Regions from separate parts of the Homo sapiens genome. Here region 1 is linked to region 2. Evidence: fine-mapped QTL for protein levels in blood plasma. Region 2 holds a variant in brackets. A gene starts in the other region. All regions are shown on their reverse strands.

What was found. A credible set is the group of variants that fine-mapping cannot tell apart. PIP is the chance, under the fine-mapping model, that this variant and not a neighbour inherited with it causes the effect. The UK Biobank Pharma Proteomics Project read protein levels with antibody pairs (Olink). The fine-mapping took linkage between variants from a reference panel, not from the people measured, so its PIPs are less certain.
Region 1: APOF starts here. The variant in region 2 is the best candidate, but not a certain one, in a credible set for the plasma level of the APOF protein (UK Biobank, PIP 0.64).

The regions. Positions count from the first base shown.
Region 1 is chr12:56,362,502-56,373,409 of GRCh38, reverse strand. APOF (apolipoprotein F) reads left to right here and starts at 10,553. Exons shown (of 2, transcript NM_001638.4): 1 at 10,553-10,680. The coding sequence starts at 10,665.
Region 2 is chr15:43,729,658-43,741,171 of GRCh38, reverse strand. It overlaps the pseudogene RNU6-354P and the pseudogene CATSPER2P1. Among named protein-coding and RNA genes, the nearest start is that of PDIA3, 11 kb to the left of the region's middle. RefSeq lists enhancers at 5,389-5,438, 5,519-5,588, 5,599-5,678. The variant G/A (reference allele first, on the strand shown) is at 5,323.

The DNA.
Region 1 (10,908 bases), not on the chromosome of region 2:
GTTTGTTTGTTTTTTGATATGGAGTCTTGCTCTGTCGCCCAGGCTGGAGTGCAGTGGCGCAATCTTGGCTCACTGCAAGCTCTGCCTCCCGGGTTCATGCCATTCTCCTGCCTCAGCCTCCTGAGTAGCTGGGATTACAGGCACCCACCACCAAACCCGGCTAATTTTGTTTTTGTATTTTTAGTAGATACAGGGTTTCACTGTGTTAGCCAGGATGGTCTCGATCTCCTGACCTCATGATCTGCCCGCCTCGGCCTCCCAAAGTGCTGGGATTACAGGCATGAGCCACCGTGCCCGGCCTCTATGTTTTCTTCTAAGAGCTTCATAGTTTTAGCTCTTATATTTAGATTTTAGATCTATTTTGAGTTAATATTTGTATAGTGTTAAATCATGGTTCAACTTCATCTTTTTGCAGGTAGATACCAGTTTCCTATGGCAACATTTGTTAGAAAGGTTGTCTTTTCCCTCATCAAATAGTCTTGGCACTCTTGTCAAAAATCATTTGACCATATATGCAAGAGTTTATTTCTGGGCTCTCTATTCTATTCCATTGGTCTATATGTCTGCTGCTATGCCAATATCACACTGTTTTGATTTATAGTAGCTTTGCAGTAAGTTGTGATATCAGGAAGTTGTTCGTTTTCAATATTGTTTTGTCTATTTGGGGTCCCTTGAGATTTTATATGAATTTTAGGATGGGCTTTTCAATTTCTGCAAAAAAACATGATTGAGATTTTGATAGGGATTGCGTTGAATCTGTGGATCACTTTGGGTACTGTTGGCCTCTTAACAATAGTAAGTCTTCTAATCCATGGACATGGAATGCATTTTCATGTATTTATATCTCCTTTAATTTCTTTCAGCAATGTTTTATAGTTTTCATTGTATAAACCTTTTAACTCCTTGGATAAATTAATTCCTAAGTATTTTATTTTTATCCTATTGTAAATGGGATTGTTTTCAAAATTTTATTTTCAAATGGCTCATTGTTAATATGTAGAGATGCAAGTGGTTCTTGTTTCTTGACTTGTAATCCACTAATTTGCTGAATTCATTTATCAGTTCTAATAGTTTTTTGTGTGAAATCTTTAGGGTTTTCTACATATAAAATCATAAGAAGTAGCCGGGCGTGGTGGTGTGTGCCTGTAGTCCCAGCTACTCAGGACGCTGAGGCAGAAGAATCGCTTGAACCCGGGAGGCGGAGGTTGCAGTGAGCCCAGAAGGAGCCACTGCACTCCAGCCTGGCGACAGAGCAAGACTCCGTCACCAAAAAAAAAAAAAAAAAAATTCATAAGAACAAGAGATAATTGCACTTCTTCCTTTTCAACCTGGATGCCTTTAATTTCCTTTTCTTGCCTAATTGCTCTGGCTAGAACTTTTAGGGCTATGTTGAATGGAACTAGCAAAAGTGGGCATCCTTTTCTTGTTCCTGATATTAGCAGAATAGCCTTTAATCTTTCACCATTGAGTATGATATAATGTTTGTTATGACTTTCTCATACATGCCTTTTATTATATTGAGGTAGTTTCCTTTTATTCCTGGTTTGTTAAATGTTTTCATCATGAAAGGGTGTTGAATTTTGTCAAATGCTTTTTCTGCATCAATTAAGATGATTGTATGATTTTTCTCCTTCATTCTGTTAATGTGGTGAATTATATTGATTGTTTTTCGTACACTGTGCCACCTTTATATTCCAGGAATAAATCCCACAGTGTATAATCCTTTTAATACATTGCTAAATTTGGCTTGCTGGCATTTTGTTGAGGATTTTTGCATCAGTATTCATAGGAGATATTGGTGTATGTTTTCTTTTTTCCTAGTGTATGTCTGCCTTTGGTATCAGGGTAATGCTCACCCCTGGAATGAGTTAGGAAATGTTCCTTCTCTTTGATCTTTTGGCAAAGTTTGAGAAGCATTAGCATTAATTCTCCTTCAAATGTTTGGCAGAATTCACCAGTGAAGCCATCTGGTCCAGGGCTTTTCATTTTGGGGAGATTTTTGATTATTGATGCAATATCTTTAATTCAAATTTTCTATTACTTCATGATTTAGTCTTGGTAAGATATATGTTTCTAGGAATTTGTTCATTTCATCTAGATTATCCAATTTGTTGGCATGTAATTGTTTAATTACTCTTATAATTCTTTTAATTTTTGTAAAATGTAATGTTCCCACTTTCATTTTAACTTTAATAATTTGAGTCTTTTTATCTTTTTTTGTTGTTAGTGTAGCTAAAGGTTTGTCAATTTTGTTCATCTATTTGAAGAACCAACTTTTGGTTGCACTGATTTTCTCAATTGTTTTTCTCTTATCTGTATTATTATTTATTTATTTATTTATTATTATTTTGAGACAGAGTCTCCCTCTGTCACTCAGGCTGGAGTGCAGTGGTGTGAAGCCTCTGCCTCCCCTGTTCCAGTGATTCTCCTGCCTCAGCCTCTCAAGTAACGGGGGTTACAGGCATCTGCCACCATGCCTGGCTAATTTTTGTTTTTTTGTTTTATTTATTTATTTATTTAGAGACAGAGTCTAGCTCTGTTGCCCAGGCTGGAGTGCAGTGGCATGATCTTGGCTCACCGCAACCTCCACCTCCCAGGTTCAAGCAATTCTCTTGCCTTAGCCTCCCAAGTAGCTGGGATTACAGGTATGCACCACCACAGCTAATTTTTATATTTTTAGTAGAGACGGGATTTCACCATGTTGGCCAGGTTGGTCTTGAACTCCTGACCTCAGATGATCCACCTGCCTTGGCCTCCCAAAGTGCTGGGATTATAGGTGTGAGCCACTGCGCCCAGACAATTTTTTTTTTTTTTTTTTTTTTTTTTGAGACGGAGTCTTGCTCTGTCGCCCAGGCTGGAGTGAGTGCAGTGGTACGATCTCGGCTCACTGCAACCTCCACCTCCTGGGTTCAAGCAATTTCCTGCCTCAGCCTCCCGAGTAGCTGGGACTATAGGCGTGTGCCACCAAGCCCAGCTAATTTTTTGTATTTTTAGTAGAGATGAGGTTTCACAGTGTTAACAGAATGGTCTCGATCTCCTGACCTCGTGATCCACCCACCTTAGCCTCCCAAAGTGCTGGGATTACAGGCATGAGCCACCTTGCCGGGCCTATTTTTAATTTTTTCACAAGTATTTGTGCCTAAAGGTATTCTCTGTTTTATTTATCTCTTCTCTAATCTCTATTATTTCCTTCCTTATAATAGTTTTGGGTTTAACTCATTCTTTAATCTTCTTTAGTCTCCTTTAATCTCTTTTAGTAATGTTTTGTAGTTTTCTTTTCTTTTAAAAAAAAACCTTTTTATTATGGAAAATTTCAAATATATAAAAAAGTAGAGAAAATAGTCTATTAAACACCTATTTCTCATCACCTAATTCCAAGAATTATCAATTCATAGTCATATACTCCACATTTTCTCACCTCCACCATTTTCAAGCAAATAATATATTTTCATCCATAAGTATTTCAGTATGAATCTCTAAATGATGAGAGCTCTTTTTTTTCTTTGACTTTTTTTTTTTAATACTTTAAGTTTTAGGGTACATGTGCACAACGTGCAGGTTTTTTACATATGTATACATATGTCATCTTGGTGTGCTGCACCCATTAACTCATCATTTAACATTAGCTATATCTCCTAATGCTATCCCTCCCCCTCCCCCCACCCATGTAGTTTTCAATGTACAAGTTTTACACTTATAGCTGCTATTATAAATGCAATTTTCTTAACTTCATTTTCAAATTATTCATTGCACATATATAGAGATATCATCGATTTTCGTGTATTGATAGTGTATCCTGCAACTTAGCTGAACCCATTTATTAGTACTTATTTTGTGTGTGTGTGTCTATGTGTGTGTAAGTTTGAGTTTTTTTAATATGCAACATCATGCTACCCACTAATATAGGTTGTTTTACTTCATCCTTTCTAATCGGGTACATTTTATTTCATTGTCTTGCTTAATTACTCTGGCTGGAACCTCCAGTACAATGTTGAATAGAAGTAGCAAGAGTGAGCATCCTTGTCTTGTTTCTTCTTTTAGGAATTTTACTTGTTTATTTTAAACACTATTGTAATTGGAATTTTTTTTTTCATTTTATTTTTCTGTAGAAACAGGGTCTCACTATGTTGCCAAAGCTGGTCTCAAATTGCTACCCTCAAGCAATCGTCCCACCTCAGCCTCCCAAAGTCCAGGTGTTACAAGCTTGAGCCATGGTAACCAGCTGGAATTTTCTAAGTTAATTTTCTTTTTTTTTTTTTTGAGACAGAGTCTTGCTCTGTTGCCTAGGCTGAAGTGCAGTGGCGCGATCTTGGCTTACTGCAACCTCCGCCTCCCGGGTTCAAGCGATTCTCCTGCCTCAGCCTCCCGAGTAGCTGGGATTACAGGCGCCCACCACCACACTCAGCTAAATTTTTTTCTTTCTTTTCTTTGAGATGGAGTCTCACTCTATCACTCAGGCTGGAGTGCAGTGGCGCGATCTCGGCTCATTGCAACCTCTGCAGCCCAGGTTCAAGCGATTCTCCTGCCTTAGCCTCCTGAGTAGCTGGGATTACAGGCACACACCACCACGCCCAGCTAATTTTTGTATTTTTAGTAGAGATGGGGTTTCACCATGTTGGCCAGGGTGGTCTTGAACTCTTGACCTTGTGATCCACCCGACTCAGCATCTCAAAGTGCTGGGATTACAGGTGTGAGCCACCGCGCCTGGCCAATTTTTTGTATTTTTAGTAGAGACAGGGTTTCACTGTGTTAGCCAGGATGGTCTTGATCTCCTGACCTCGTGATCCACCCACCTTGGCCTCCCAAAGTGCTAGGATTACAGGTGTGAGCCACCGCACCCGGCCCTAAGTTAACATTCAATGTATGTTTTTAGACTACAGAAATAGAATTCATTTATATATTAATATTTTATCTTGTCACCTTGCTAAATTAACTTATTGGTCCTTTTAAAATTGTATTCTTTAGGATTTATGCATAAACAATCACATTGTTTCTTTTAATTTTTTATTTTTTAATTATTATTTTATTTATCTATCTATCTATCTATTTATTTATTTATTTATTTGAGACAGGGTCTCCCTCTGTCACCCAGACTGGAGTTCAGTGGTACGATCACAGCTTACTGAAGCCTCAACCTCCTGGGCACAAGTGATCCTCCTGAGAAACTGAGACTACAGGCGTGTGCCACCACAGCTGGACAGCTGAGCTGGCTAATTTTTTTTTTTTTTTTTTTTTTTTTTGCAGAAACAGGGTCTCCCCTATGCTGCCCAGGCTGGTCTTGAACTCCTGGACTTTGGCCTCCCAAAGTGTGTGAGCCACCATGCCTAGTCCATGTTGTTTTTATTTTGTATTACTTTTTTAAATTTTATTATTATTACTTTTTGAGACATGGTCTCACTCTGTCACCAAGGTTAGAGTGCAGTGGCAGAATCATAGCTCACTGTAACCTCCCCCTCTTGGGTTCAAGCAATTCTCCTGCCTCGGCCTCCCGAGTAGCTGGGGCTACAGATGCACACCACCACCCCTGGCTGTGTTTTTTATTTTTTGTAAAGATGGGGTTTCACCATGTTGGCCAGGCTGGTCTCGAACTCCTGGTCTCAAGCCCCGCCCCATGTCTTTTTTTTGTTTTTTTGTTGTTGCTGGTTTTTTTTTTTTTTTTTTTTTTTAGATAGACTCTCACTCTGTTGCCAGGCTGGAGTGCAGTGGCGAGATCTCGGCTCACTGCAATCTCTGCCTCCCGGGTTCAAGTGATTCTCCTGCCTCAGCCTCCCGAGTAGCTGGGATTACAGGTGCGCACCACCATGCCTGGCTAATTTTTTGTACTTTTAGTACAGACGGGATTTCACCATGCTGGCCATGGCTAGTCTTGAACTCCTGACCTCGTGATCTGCCCGTCTCAGCCTCCCAAAATGCTAGGATTACACGCGTGAGTCACTGCGCCCAGCCCCCATGTTGTTTTTAAGAGTCTCATGTTCTACCGACTGAGCCAGCCAGAGCTATGTTGTATTTAAATAAATATCGTTCTACATCTTCCTTTCTAGTTTTATGCCATTTATTTTTTATTCTTTCCACATTACACTGGTTAGAACTTCCAGTACAATGAGGAAAAACTGGTAAGAATGGATATTTCTGCTTTGTGATAGATCTTAGGAGACAAGGATTAAATCTTTCACTCCTTCTAGTGTTGCTACACAGAAACTATAGAGTCCTAGGAGGCTGGGTGCAGTGGCTCAGCACTCTGGGAGGCCTAGACAGGAGGATCCCTTGAGCCCAGGAGCTCGAGACCAGCCTGGCCAACATAGTGAGTTCCCTTCTCTACAAGAAAATTTTAAAAATTAGCCAGGTGTGGTGGTACGTGCCTGAAGTCCCAGATATATAGGAGTCCGAGGTGGGAGGATTGCTGGAGCTTGGGAGTTCAAGGCTGCAGTGAGCTGTGATTGTACCAACTGCACTCCAGCCTGGTATACGTGTATGTGTGTGTACGTATATTTTATCCATGTAGGTATATGTATATATATTGTCTTAGGGATTCCCCAGGGGTTTGGGGTCTAGTAATTTCAGACAGTGTTGGACTCCTTTCCACTTAGTTCTTGCTGTTTCTAAGTTGGCACTGTGTCCCTGGAGACTTACTCCTCTGCTTCTGTCTTTGCTCTTAGTTGTCAGGGGCCACTCCTGGGAACTGAAAGAACCGAAAAAAATAGAGGGAGGGACCCTGGACCCTGCCATTGGCCTAGTCCCTTTGGCCATGTGCCTGAGGTGAGTGACATCAGAGGAAACTTTAGGCCATAATGATATGTAGGAACTGGTACCATTTTTAGGAGGCATCAGATGTCTTATTTCCCTAATTTTTGGACTAATGTTACCCCTAAACCCAAGATAAAGCCTAATTCCTGGAGTTTTGGTTAGATTTGGAAAGTTACTGCTCAGCTGATGGACATGTTTTATTTGTGTTTTGCATTGGAATTAGAAAAGTGAAAAATAAACCAGGTGCAGTGGTTCATGCCTCTAATCACAGCACTTTGGGAGGCTGAGGTGGGAGGACTGCTTGAGACCAAGAGTTCAAGACCAGTCTGGGAAACATAGTGAAACCTCATCTCTACAAAAAAAAAAAAAAAAAATTTTAGCTAGGCATGGTGGTGCACACCAGTAGTCACAGCTACTTGAGAAGCTGAGGCAGGAGGATCTTTTGAACCCAGGAGTTAAACGCTGTGGTGAGCCATGATCAGGCCACTGTACTCCAGCCAGGGAGATAGAGCAATACCTGGACTGGACTCTAAAAAAGAAAAAAAAAGTTGCTCTGATTTTGTCTTATTTGTCAATCTGTCCAGTTTCCCTGGACTCCCATCCAGTATATTCTCTTTTTCAGACAAAGTCTCGCTCTGTCACCCAGTCTGGATGGTGCAGTGGTGTAATCATGGCTCACTGCAGCCTTGACCTCCCCAGGTTCAGGTGATCCTCCCACCTCAGCCTCCCCAGTAGCTGGGACTACAGGTGCATGCCACCACTCCTGGCTAATTTTTATAATTTTTGTAGAGACGGGGCTTTCGCCATGTTGCCTAGGCTGGTCTCAAACTTCTGGGCTCAAGCCATCTGCCTGCCTTGGCTTCCCAACCAATATATTCTTTTAATAAGAAAAATGGTGACCAGGCGCTGTGGCTGGCTCAAGCCTGTAATCCCAGCACTTTGGGAGGCCAAGGTGGGCAGATCACCTTAGGTCAGGGGTTCAAGATCAGCCTGGCCAACATGAAGAAACCCCGTCTCTACCAAAAATACAAAATTAGCCGGGAATGGTGGCACACGCCTGTAATCCCAGCTACTTGGGAGGCTGAGGCAGGAGAATCACTTGAACCTGGGAGGCGGAGGTTGCAGTGAGCTGAGATCGCGCCATTGCACTCCAGCCTGGTCAACAAGAGCGAAACTCCGTCTCAGAAAAAAAAAGAAAAGAAAAATGGTTTAGGGGTCCCAGAGATCACCAGCTATTCTGCCTTACCCTTTCTCCCCTCAAGAAGATACGGAGGACCTTTTCCTCAGCTCAAATATAGGTTTAGGGTAAAACCTTAGGATAGAAAAGATATGTCACTGGGTGCCGTGGCTCACGCCTGTAATCCCAACACTTTGGGAGGCCGAGGCAGGCAGATCATTCGAGGTCAGGAGTTTGAGACCAGCCTGACTGACATGGTGAAACTCCATCTCTACTAAAAATACAAAAACATTAGCTAGGCGTGGTGGCGCACACCTGTAGTCCCAGCTACTCGGGAGGCTGAGGCAAGAGAATCTCTTGAACCTGGGAAGTGGAGGTTGCAGTGAGCCAAGATCACGCCATTGCATTCCAGCCTGAGCAACAGAGTGAGACTGTCTCCAGAAAACAAAACAAAACAAAAATTTGCCAGGCATGGTGGTGCGTGCCTGTAATCCCAACTACTAGGGAGACTGAGACACAAGAATCGCTTGAACCCGGGATGTGGAGGTTGCAGTGAGCTGTGATCGTGCCACTGCACTCTACCCTGGGCAACAGAGTGAGACTGTGTCTCCAGAAAAAAAAAGGAAAAGAAAAAGAAAAAGAAAAAAAAAAAAAGATATGGGACAGGACTGCAGGGCCTAAAAGGGGAAAGGTCAGTTTGTCAGTATGGGTCAAAGGTGAGAAGGACAAAGTCTGGGCTGGGAAGAGATGCATAAATATTTGCAAATGTTTTGTCCTTCACTGTTTTGGAAGCCATCAACTTTCTGGTTTCCTTGTGATTCTGGGAAAGGGCAGATTAAAAACAGCAACAACAACAATAATAGTAATTCAGGTCATGAAGATACCAAAGCAAATGAGATGTTTGGACTGTTTTTTTCCTCTGACTTGTTTCTCCTCAAAATAGGAGGATCACCCACATCCTTTAAGAGTGAAGATGAGGTGTGCTCAGGGCAACCGAAGTTTCCAAGAGCTAAGACACTTTCTAGCTCTGGCCAGTCTTGGTGTCTCTTTGTCCTGAGCCTTTCTCCACTTCCCAACCTGAGCACTGCTTCCTTCCAGCAGGGCTGCTCTGCTGTCCCCCCATGGTCCAAGCTGTGCTGCTGCTTTGCTGTGTCCTGCTGTCCCTGGTGTCTGCCTTTCCAAGAAATGCTCAGAATGAGACTCTGACCCTCCAGCCATCTTTAACAGAGACTGGGCATCCATCAAACATGCTCTCCATTATTTGGAGAACATGGAGAGCCAGATTCCTCTCCCAGATCCCAGGATCTGCCAAGATCTCTTACACACAGCCCCCTCCCTAGCCCCTCTGCCTGAGTACCTGTCCAACTTAGCTCTGAGGGTGCCCTTGGAGGAGGTGGGCTGCCCAACTGAGGCCCATGTTCTGCAGTTTCAGATGCGAGGAAAGGATACCACTGAAACCCTCATCCGTGAGAGTCAAAAAGTTCAATGGGGAGGAAGGCAATACCAACATCATTGTGACGAATCTAGTAGTCCCTTAGGGAAGTGTGAATAAACCCAGCACCCAGCTGCCCATCCTGGGAAATGTATGGATGGTGGCAAATATACCCACTGGGGTAGCTGGCCTACCAGGTAGCTCAGATGGTGATTGAGTTTGCTGAGAAACCATCTCCCATGATGCTTGGTGTCACAGTTCAAAGTTTTGGGTGTCCACATCACCAAGAACTGCAGGTATGAGTCTTGGGAGCATATTGAAGAATTAGGCAAAAAGTTGAAGAAGCTCTCAAGATCATTTAAATTGTCCATGGACAGTGACAATATAATCTATCAAATGTTCCACAGCTATTCTGAAGTGCTTTGTGAGGAAAATGATCCAGGAATTGATCCCGGCTCATTTCAGCTATTCAATATCACATAAGTAATGAGTCTCCTTTCCCAGGACTGTATTCAAGGATGGCACACAGTAAGTAGTTAGAAATGTTGGAGACCACTTAGGACAGATGAATGCTCTTTATTTCACCTCTTCCCTTAAACACATATGTGACCAGTGTTAGCCTTGCCCCTCTCCACTTAGTAGGTGTCAGCTCCCCTCCTTTTTTTTTTTTAAGACGGAGTCTCACTCTGTCACCCAGGCTGGAGTGCAGTAGTGCGATCTTGGCTTACTGCAACCTCCACCTCCCGGGTTCAAGCAATTCTCCTGCCTCAGCCTCCTGAGTAGCTGGGACTACAGACGCCCACCACCACGCCTGGGTGTATATATATATATATATATATATATATTTTTTTTTTTTTAGTAGAGACAGGGTTTCACCATATTGGCCAGGCTGGTCTCGAACTCCTGACCTTGTGATCCGCCCGCCTTGGCCTCCCAAAGTGCTGGGATTACAGGCGTGAGCCACCATGCTCAGCCGCTAATTTAATTTTTAAAATGAAGAGAAATGAGAGTATCACAAACATCTCATCTTTCCTAATTCTGAATTTCCCTGGCTCCTATCATGAGCTTAGAGTGGGAATGTGGCAGGGACATACAGGAAATGCCAAAGAACAGGACTGTAGGCATAGAGGTTGAGTGTGTGACAAGGGGCACAAGGTTTGAGCAGCCAGTATAAATGGGCAAATATTTGCAGAGATTACATCCTTCACTGATCATAGGGGAAAGCAAATATCTCCTTTCCTCATGGGACACAGAACTAGGCAGAACAGGATCAGGAAGCGATCAAACCTACCAAGGCAGTCTCACTTCTCAATGACTGGACTGTGTGGTAATTTGGGGTCCCTATATATGGGTGGAAATAAAACAGAAGTCCCTGGTGACCTGTAAATGGGGGAGACCAAGTGGGAGCAACTGGGGTGCATTTCCTATTTCCTAGGCCTTTACCTAAAAAGAACAGAAGCTTGGGGCCAGGCGCGGTGGCTCACATCTGGAAGCCTATCACTTTGGGAGGCGGAGGTGGAAGGATCACTTGAGCCCAAAGTTCAGAACTAGGCTG
Region 2 (11,514 bases):
GCCAGACTAGAAATTATCTGGCAAGCTCGTGGAAATTTTATCTTATTAAGTTTATTCTTGTGGGAGAAACGGAGGAGGGATTTTGCAGAGGGAAATTATTTGTGATTAACAGATTTCTTTGAACAGACTAATTCATATGATAAACATTAAGACTTTTTTTAGGCTTAAAATTTTTTTTCCAGATCACAAAGCGATCTAAACTGTTAGGGCTTTAAAAAATCTACTTCCACAACTGGATATTGGTAATTCTGTTTTGCACTTTATTTTTTAAATTTTATTATTTTATTATTATTATTTTTTGAGACGGAGTCTCGCTCTGTCACCCAGGCTGGAGTGCAGTGGCACGATCTCGGCTCACTGCAAGCTCTGCCTCCCAGGTTCACGCCATTCTCCTGCCTCAGCCTCCCGAGTAGCTGGGACTACAGGCCCCTGCCATCACACCTGGCTAATTTTGTGTATTTTTAGTAGTGATGGGGTTTCACTGTGTTAGCCAGGATGGTCTCGATCTCCTGACCTGGTGATCCGCCCGCCTCGGCATCCCAAAGTGCTGGGATTACAGGCATGAGCCACTGTGCCTGGCCTCTGTTTTGCACTTTAAACATCAATTGGCTTATTTTTAAAATCTTGTATTTTGTTTCAAATAATGAGAAAGAAAAAATGATTTGACTCATTTGCAAGCCTTTGTCAGAAAATAACACATTGCAAGTGTAGACAATCTCTACTTAAAATTAAAAACTGAGTATATTAGGAGGGTGAGGTGGGAGGATCACTTGAGCCCAGGGGATTGAGGCAGCAGTGAGCTATGATCTCACCAGTGCACTGCAGCCTGGGTGACAGAGCAAGATTCTGTATCAAAAATAAAATAAAACCTAAGTATAATATCATTACAATTTTTTCCCAAAGGTGGGCATATTCCTGAAGATTACAATTTTTTACATTGACTTTTAAAGTCCTAGAGAGGGTTTGATGTGCTATATAAAGTTTTTGGTCATATGAATGGAATTTATAGAATCTGATGAAGATCATCTTGAGATTAAACTTGCAGAATTGTCATTCTTTTTTTTTTTTTTTTTTTTTTGAGACAGACTCTTGCTCTGTCTCCCAGGCTGGAGTGCAGAGACGCCATCTCTGCTCACTGCAAGCTCCACCCCCTGGGTTCATGCCATTCTCCTGCCTCAGCCTCCCAAGTAGCTAGGATTACAGGCGCCCGCCACCACGCCCAGCTAATTTTTTGTATTTTTAGTAGAGACGGGGTTTCACTATGTTAGCCAGGATGGTCTCGAACTTCTGACCTCGTGATCCGCCCGCCTCGGCCTCCCAAAGAGCTGGGATTACAGGCATGAGCCACCGCGCCCAGCCAGAATTATCACTCTTAATGCTCTTCATGAAATTGTATTTCTGGCTGGGCATGTGGCTCATGCCTGTAATCCCAGCAATTTGGGAGGCCTAGTCCTGCGGATCACTTGAGGTCAGGAGTTCAAGACCAACCTGGCCAACATGGTGAAACCCCATCTCTACTAAAAATACAAGAATCAGTGGGTATGGTGATGTGCACCTATGGTTCCAGTTACTCAGGAGGCTGAGGCAGAAGAATCGCTTGAACCCGGGAGGCGGAGTTTGTAGTGAGCTGAGATGGCAGCTGGGCAACAGATTGAGTGAGACTCCATTTCAAAAAAAAAAGAAAGAAAGAAATTATGTTTCAACATCAGTGTTCCTTGTTTCATGATGGATATAACTAGCCAAAACATTACTAAAAATATTAAAACTGTAAATGTCAAAATCTACATAACAGTTTATTGTTACAGTGTACTATTCTCCTCACCTATAGTATTGGACTCCTTGAAACCAATGTGAATTTACCTGGTATTCTGTGAGGTGACCTACTGTTGTTTTTCTAGAATAGGGAGTAGCAATAGATGACTGTTCATGGTGAACTCTACCTTGTAAAACAGAATTATGTATTTGCCTGACTTGCTTGATCAAATGGCTACTGTCTGTCACCCTGAGAAGAATATTGAAACATAGATGTTCACTGCTACTTCACTTCACTGGCTAAGATTCCTGGGTAGACTTCACTGGGCTCCTGGTCTCTATTTCCATTAAGACTCCTTTGCTTTGCTATAGCAGCCTGAAAAATTCCAAGAATTTTAAAAAGTTATTTTTCATCTTCAGAGAGGACACATTACTTGATGTAGAGTGGAGGCAGTCACTTCTGCACATTCTGTGCTGCTGAGGCAATTTCTGCTATTCGTTCCTCTGAACTTCCTTGGGTTTGTTTAGCTTCTATAAAATTATTCATTTTTCCAGAGAGTAAAAGTGCTACTGCTTCTATAATTTGGACTTCCCTACTTAAACTATTTTAAACTACTCAAAACTATATTCTGCTTTACAAGAGCCTTATTTTACTTCATTGCTCTGTTTGGGTTCCTGTTTTGCAAGGGCAAAAACTGAATAAAAATTATAGCATTCTATTTTCCAGCCACAAATGTGGTCCTCAGCTCTTTCTAATTATATAATCCCATGCTCCTGAGAGCTAGAATTTATTGTTAAGTGAAAAAATTTTGTATTTTATTGAATTTAAGCTGTCATCAATGGTGAAATTCACTGTTTACCAATAAGAAATAAAAATCATGCTCAATTAAACTGGGACACATCGCTGGTTGTAAAATGCATCCTCACTTTGGGAGGCCGAGGTGGGCAGATCACGAGGTCTAGAGATAGAGACCATCCTGGCCAACATGGTGAAACCCCGTCTCTACCAAAAATAATAAAATTAGCTGGGCATGGTGGCGCAGAGGCAGAGGTTGCAGTAAGCTGAGATTGCACCACTGCACTCCAGCCTGGAAACAGAGCGAGATTCCATCTCAAAAAAAAAAAAAAAAAAAAAAAGCATCCTAATTTCATGGATGTTAAAATGTGAAATATTGTCCATCTTAGAGAAATGTGCATGAAAGAAAAACTTACGGAAGAAGTACAGAGCCTAAATAAGCATAGGAGTGCTGGGTGCAGTGGCTCATGCCTATAACCCCAGCACTTTGGGAGACCAAGGCCGGAGGATCGCTTGAGCCCAGGAGTTTGAGGCCAACCTGGGCAGCATAGGGAGACCCCATCTCTACAAGTAATTTAAAGAAAAAATTAGCTGGGCATGGTGACATGTGCCTGTGGTCCCAGTTACCCAGAGGCTCTTGAGCCCGGAAGATCCAGGCTTCCGCGAACTGTGATTATGCCACTGCACTCCTCCAGCCTGGGTGACAGAGTGAGACTCTGTCTCAAAACAAGCATAGGAATAAGTATAGTGTAACCCCATTGGTTTTTAGAAGGGGCCAACCTCTGTAAAATTCTAGGGATGATCGAAGTATGGTTCTGTTCTTTTTGTCTGGATCCAGTTCAGCATCAGGATGAATTTAAAGCCAGAGCACCACAATGTTGATTTCTATTTAGCTCTTAAGCCATTTTAATTTCAGTGTTTTTTTTTCTAGAGCATGGCATACATCCATTAATTGTATAAAAGAGATGAAGAAGGTTGAAAGAGAAAGGCAATGAATTAAGGAATAGCAATTGGTAAATAATAAGGTTCTAGAGAGGAAGTATGCATTCAATTTGCTTTGCAGAACAAAACCAATTTTAGGCAGGGAAGAAAGGAAAAGTTTTAAAAGAAAGCTAACAGAACCAAGTGATTTATTGTTATAATTCGATATACCCTAATGATTGTGGCTTGTTTCTACATTCGTTATAAAGTAGTTCAGATATCATGGCCCTGTATTTTCATTCTGTTCTCAAGACCCATTGCTTTCTTGTGAACTTTGGGACTGAGATAACAGTACAGTAGATGGGGGTGGGGGGTTGGAGGTAGGGGTAATTAAAGAGAGTAGTCTCTTAGTAGCTGTGTGAGCCCCAGAGTGGATCGCAAGTGACTTGTAGCTGGGCAGACATAACTATATGAACAGATTGGTTGTGGCTGTGTTTTATGGTCAATTCTGTCCTTCCCTGTATTTCACAGGTTGAAGCAACAGTGTTAAGAAGAGAAACTCTTAACTCTTAACACAGTGTGAAGAAAAATGGAACAGTAGTGGGCAAAACTGTGGTTTATAAGTGTGTTCATTCTCCATCATTCGGTTTCCAGCTTCCTTAACTTTTATTCCTCCTTTGCTCTATCCTCACAGAATTGCTGGAATCCACAAATACCAAACTATGGCCATTGAAGCTGACCTTGGAGGGGGCAGCTTGGTTTATCTTGCTTATTTTCATCCTGGAGATCCTTCTTAAGTGGCTATCCAACTTTTCTGTTTTCTGGAAGAGTGCCTGGAATGTCTTTGACTTTGTTGTTACCATGTTGGTAAGGATAGAGATCCTGAGGGTTCGTTTAGTGGGATGAAGAATGTGCCTAGGTGAATCGAAAGAACAAGTTAACATGATAATAGGAAGAAACAAAAATTTACTTAACTTCTTTCTTTTGATTTTTTTTTCCTAAAACTAAACATCAATCATTGCAGGAGTTGTTGGTATTAGGAGCAAAGTAGACTAACTACAACATCAATGCCAACAAGAGCATCTGCCGGTTACTGAGCACTTACTAAGTGCCAAGCACTATTTTAAGTGTTTTCCTTACATTATCTCATTTATGCTCCACAACAACCTAATTAAATAACCATGAATTTTATCCCCCTTTTTATATCTGAACAAGTTGAAGTATAGTGTTTAAGCAACTTAATATAGAAAGGCTGAATAGTAAGCACTTCTCAGAGAATGCTATTCAAAGGATAACGCCCAGGGAACAATGAAGAGGATAAGATGAAGAAGCTGCAATTCTGCCTGGGTGCCTTGGGGTGTATTTTACTTATAACCTGTGTGTTTTCCACAGTCCCTGCTTCCCGAGGTTGTGGTATTGGTAGGGGTAACAGGCCAATCGGTGTGGCTTCAGCTTCTGAGGATCTGCCGGGTGCTGAGGTCTCTCAAACTCCTTGCACAATTCCGTCAAATTCGAGTTATTATTTTGGTCCTGGTCAGGGCCCTCAAGGTGATTTGACTGTTGCAAGCTAAAGCAGGGGGCAAGGTAGATAAATGTGAGGGCTTAACATAGAATATGAAACAAATTGGCCGGGTGCGGTGGCTCATGCCTGTAATCCCAGCACTTTGGGAGGCCGAGGGGGATGGGTCATGAGGTCAGGAGTTCGAGACCAGCCTGACCAACATGGTGAAACCCTGTCTCTACTAAAAATACCAAAAAAAAAAAAAAAAAAATTGCCGGGCTTGGTGGTGTGTGCCTGTAATCCCAGCTACTCAGGAGGCTGAGGCAGAAGAATCACTTGAACCCAGGAGGCG[G/A]AAGTTGCAGTGAGCCGAGACTGCTCCACTGCACTCCAGCCTAGGCGACAGAGTGAAACTCCGTTTAAAAAAAAAAAAAAGAATATGAAACAAATCTGGATGGGTCAAAGAAGGCAATGAAACGTCCTGTGAAATGTTATTGGATGAGAAGGGGCTGGGGACAGGTGCCATGGTTCAGAGATGACTGGGTTCAGCAGTGCAAGAGAGGGTTTGGTGGGAGATTGCCAGGTGGGCTTGACTGGGCTGTTGGTGGAGATCAGCCTAGTCTGGCCCACATCTGACTTGAGTTTATGGCCTCTAGAGCATGACTTTCCTCTTGATGTTGCTGCTCATCTTCTACATTTTTGTTGTGACTGGTGTCTACGTCTTCTCAGAGTACACCCATTTACCTCGTCAGGACCTGGAGTATCATGTATTCTCGTAAGCAGAGCTGAGTGACAGCTGAGTGAGGGGAGAAAATTTGGCTAAGAGACCAGGAAGCTTGTCCAAAGTATAGTAATATAAAAAGTACAGTCTATTCCAAGAAACTGAAATAGAACACAATAGGGAGAGGGAAAGAGAAAGCAAAAGAACAGTGAATGGTATTAGCTCTGATCTTGAGGTTAGGGCAGCTAGTTCCATGTTTATTCTGGGTTTTGCAAATTCAAACCACACTGTCATCAGGCATCTTTAAATAGCGGTACACTCCAGTGGTTGAGCTTGGTTTCTGTGACTCAGTTACGTCTTTTGAAAACTGGGGGCCAGGCACAGTGGCTCACCCCTGAAATCCCAGCACTTTGGGAGGCTGAGGCGGGTGGATCATGAGGTCAAGGGATCGAGACTATCATGGCCAACATGGTGAAAACCCATCTCTACCAAAAATACAAAAATTAGCCAGGCGTGGTGGCTTGCACCTGTAGTCCCAGCTACTCGGGAGGCTGAGGCAGGAGAATTGCTTGAATCTGGGAGGCAGAGATTGCAGTGAGCCGAGATCATGCCACTGTACTCCAGCCTGGCAACAGAGCGAGACTCCATCTCAAAAAAAAAAAAAAAAAGAAAAAGAAAAGAAAAATGGAAATAGGCTGGGCATGGTGGCTTACGCCTGTAATCCCAGCACTTTGAGAAGCCAAGGCGGGTGGATCACCTGAGGTCAGGAGTTCGAGACCAGCCTGGCCAACATGGTGAAACCCTGTCTCCACTAAAAATACAAAATTAGCTGGGCATGGTGGTGGGTGCCTGTAATCCCAGCTACTCGGGAGGCTGAGACAGGAGAATCACTTGAACTAGGGAGGCGGAGATTGCAGTGAGCTGAGATTGAGCCACTGCACTCCAGCCTGGGCTACAAAGAGTGAAATTCTGTCTCAAAAAAAAAGAAAGGTGGGGGGAATAATAGCAGTGCTACTTCATAAGAGTGTGGGGTTAAATGTGGTAATGCATTTAAGCACTTAGCACAGTATGTAACACGTTATAAGTGATCAATTAATGTTACTATGATTCTCAAATATGATCACTGGTTTTATCCCAATCTCTACATATTACACATGCACACGCCTATTCCTGATCTCTGTCTAGAAAACACTAATCAGTGCTCACTTCGGCAGCACATGTACTAAAATTGGAACGATATAGAGAAGATTAGCATGGCCCTTGTGCAAGGATGAAACACAAATTTATGAAGTGTTACATATTTTTTAAATATTAACAAAACCTCACTAATCAGTGTTTTCTAGAAGAAAATCAGCTTGAATTTAGAGTAGATAATCTTGCTTATGAATTATAATTCAATCTGGTCAGCGCCTCTCAGGACTCTGTTAGACTCTAACAGATAGTTTTGTAAGAGTATTGAGTTAGGAAAGTCCTAGAATTTATCCTATACAAGCTCTGATGTTTTCAATAAATTGTGTATGGGGAACTAAAAAGAAAGGTAGGAAAATTTAGATACCTTCCCGGAAACTTTTTACTTTTTTAGCAATTTTTAAATATTATTAATTTTATAATTTGTATATATTCATTATTTAGGATCACATATGTTTATGTAACATACCCATTTACTTGCATATCATTTCATACCAGCAAACTAATAGGAATAATTTTTTGAATGATCTTCTATTTTGCTAAATTTGCTAATTTTGCTAAATTTTGCTAAATTTACGAGTGATCTTCTATTAAGTGGAGTCCATAGAGCAGTGGAGAATAAAATTAGAAAAAACCGCTGGGCATGGTGGCTCACATCTGTAATCCCAGCACCTTGGGAGGTGGAGGCAGGCAGATAGATCACTTGAGGTCAGGAGTTCAAGACCAGCCTGGCCAACATGGTGAAACCCTGTCTCTACTAAAAATATGAAATATGAAAATTAGCTGGGCATGGTGGTGCACACCTGTAATCTCAACTACTCGGGAGGCTGAGTCAAGACAATCACTTGAGCCTGGGGGGCAGAGGTTGAAGTGAGCTGAGATCACGCCACTCCAGCTTGGATGATAGAGTGAGACTCTGTCTCAAAAAAAGAAAAAAAAATTAGAAAACTATCTAGTTGGTGATTCATTCATCTTTAAAAAATTGATCTTTAAAAATTCATTCATCTTTAAAAAATTCAGTCAATACCTATTTATTATTTATTATACCCCAGGACTAATGGAGTAGTGAGAGGTAGTCACAGATTATTCATGATAAAGGAGAATTTAGGCTGGGTGTGGTAGCTCACGCCTATAATCCTAGCATTTTGGGAGGCTGAGACTGGTGGATCACCTTAGGTCAGGAGTTTGAGACCAGCCTGGCCAACATGACAAAAGTTTAGTAGAGATGGCTCTACTAAAAATACACAAATTAGCTGGGCGTGGTGGTGCGTGCCTGTAATCCCAGCTCCTTGCGGGGCTGAGACGAGAATCTCTTGAACCCATGAGGTGGAGGTTGCAGTGAGCTGAGATCGTGCCACTACACTCCAGCCTGGGCAACAGAGCGAGACTCTGTCTCAAAAAAAATTAAATTAAATTAAATTAAATTAAAATAAAACAACTTCAAACAAGAATGATTAGCTAAAAACAGTATGGTAGAAAAGGAGCCAAAATCAGAACAAACTACAAAGAAATGCTTTATGTTTCTTTGAAAGTAGGAATGATACCATTTTTGAAAGGTTTAGGTCTCTGCTTCCGTCTATTCACATGCTTTTTTCTTTAGGGACCTCCCGAATTCCCTGGTAACAGTGTTCATTCTCTTCACCTTGGATCATTGGTATGCACTGCTTCAGGACGTCTGGAAGGTGCCTGAAGTCAGTCGCATCTTCAGCAGCATCTATTTCATCCTTTGGTTGTTGCTTGGCTCCATTATCTTTCGAAGTATCATAGTAGCCATGATGGGTAAGCATAGAGGAGGTGAAACTTGTTTGGGAAGTGTGGTTGGGAAAAAGTTATTCTGAAAGCTGGGATTGGTGGCTTATGGGTATAAAGAACCTAGTGTAGCAGGAAGGCTTGGGTTCTGGATTGGATATTTCACTTGGATTCTCCCCACCCAAGCCCTCTTCCCAAGTCTAGTCATTACCATCTCCCAGCTCCTAATGGCCCTTTGGGGAAGTCATTAACTTGCAGAATATCAGGAAAGAGCTGCATGAGGAGATGGCATGTCAGGAGGTTCAGCTCAAAGCTGATATGTTCAAGCGGCAGATCATCCAGAGATCTACTTCTCCCTTTTCAACCCCAACTTTCCTTCTCAAGGGTTTCCTGAGCTCATTTCTTGTTTCTGCTCCTTGACCCCACTTTTCCCTTTGTGACAGTAGATTTGCCCCCAAGGATAAGAATTCTCCAGCTCTAGAATATTGCCTGATTCTTCATCCACTGTGGGGAGTCCTCCATTTTTTTCACCCCGTGACTACAATTTGTTCTCCCCAATTAGTTTTCTTCACTTTCTGATATGAACTCTTTTTTTCTTACCACACTTTTGCTTGAATATAACTGTCTTTGCTCTTTTTTCTTTTTTTTTTCTTTTTTTTTTTTGCTTTGCAGGAGAAAAAAACATGTCACGTGAGGCACTGAGGTCAAGCCACAGCAAAATAGATGCCAGGTTAGGAGTATGTATGTGAACTGGGATAGAAACACATGAAGGAGGAGAGGGTGGAAAACTAAAGATGAAGATTGGCTTTGAGAGATAATTCATTCATTTAATAACTGCATATTGTAGTAGGTTGACTAGTGGCACCCGAAATAATATGTCCATGTCTTTGCTCCCTGGAACCTGTGAATGTGACCTTATTTGGAAAAAAAAAAAGATCCTAAGTTAAGGATCTTGAGATGAGATCATCCTAGATTATCCAGGTAGGTCCTAAATCCAATGGCAAGGGTACTTATAAGAGTTGAAAGAGGAGAAGACACAGAGAATAGGAGAAGGCGATGTGAAGACGGAGATAGAGGTTAGGGTTAATGCCGCCACAAGCCAAGGGAAGCTGAGGAATGCCAGGCAGCTGCCAGAAGGTAGAAGAGGCAAGGAACTTCTCCCCTAAAGCCTCCAGAGGGAATATGGCCCTGCCAACACCTTCATTTCAGACTCTAGCCTCTAGAATTGTGACGGAATATATTTCTGTCATTTTAAGCTACCAAGTTTATAGTAATTTGTTATGGCAGCCACAGGACACTAATACAAATACCTTCCATGAAACAGATATGATTCTAGACCCCAAGTGTTTAGCAGTGGACAAAAAAAGCAGAAGCAGAAGTAAACTCATTCACTCATTAACAAATAATTACTGGGTGGATGTGGTGGCTTACACTTGTAATCCCAACACTTTGAGAGGTGAAGGCAAGAGGATTGCTTGAAGTTCAAGCCAGAAGTTCAAGGCTGCATTGAGACATGATTGCACCACTATACTCCAGCCTGGGCAACAGAGCAAGATCCCATCTCAAAAATTTAGCAGGGTGGGCATGGGCACTCATGCCTATAATACCAGCATTTTCGAAAACTGAGGTGGGCAGATGACTTGAGCTCAGGAGTTCAAGACTAAACTAGGTAATATGGCAAAATCCTGTCTCTGCGAACAAAAATTAGCTGGATGTGGTGGTGTGTTCCTGTGGTCCCAGCTACTTAGGAGGCTGAGGTGGGAGGACTGCTTGAGCTGAGAGGTTGAGGCTGTGGTGAGCCGTGATTGTGCCACTGCTCTGCAGCCTGGGTGACAGAGCAAGACCCTGTCTCAAAAAAAACAAACAAAAACAATAAAGAACAAATAATTATTGAATACTTAGTAGGTGCTTGGGATGTTATCAGTGAACAAAATAGACAATAATGCCTGCTTCATGGAGCTTACATATTAGTAGTGGTAAAGAGATAATAAGCAGTGAATATATTAAGTAATCTGTTAAAATATGATAAGCATTATGGGAAAGTTAAAAGTAGAACAGGTTAAGGGAGATTGGGAGTATAAGGTGGGATTGCAGATGGGTTGTAGTTTTTTTTTCTTGAGACAGAGTCTCGCTCTGTCACCAGGCTGTGGAGTGCAGTGGCACGATATATCGGCTCACTGCAACCTCCGCCTCCTGGGTTCAAGCGACTCTCCTGCCTCAGCCTCCCAAATAGCTGGGACTACAGGTGCCTGCCACCATGCCTGGCTAATTTATTTGTTTATTTTTTTGTATTTTAGTAGAGACGAGGTTTCACCATGTTGCCCAGGCTGGTCTCAAGTTCCTGAGCTCAGGCACTCCACCCGCCTCAGCCTCCAAAAGTGTTAGGATTACAGGCGTGAGCTATCGTGCCCAGCCGCAGATGGGTTGTAGTTTTAAACAGGGTAGTCACGGTGACCTCATTGAAAAGGTAATGTGAGCAAAGACTCGAAGGAGGTAAAGGGATTACCATGTGGATATCTGTAAGAAGAGTGTTAATAGGCAGATGAAACAGCTAGTGCAAAGCTCCTAAGCTGGATGCATGCTTGGTGTGTTTGAGAAACAGCAAAGAGGCCATTGTGACTGGAGTAGAGTGAGCAGGGGGAAGAGTGCTGGGAAATGAAGTCAGAGAGAGAATGGTGACCTGATCCTGTAGGGTTATGGGTGCCATTGTAGGGACTTTGAAATGGCAAGCAGAACAGAGGGGTGACATGAAGTGACTTACGTTTAAGAAGGATTACTCTGGTTGCTGTGTTGATAGAAGAACAAGGGAAGGAGCAGAGAGATCAGCTGGGAGGCTATGCTGCTGCCCAGGCAAGAAATGATGACAGCTTAGGCCAGAGTGGTGGCAGT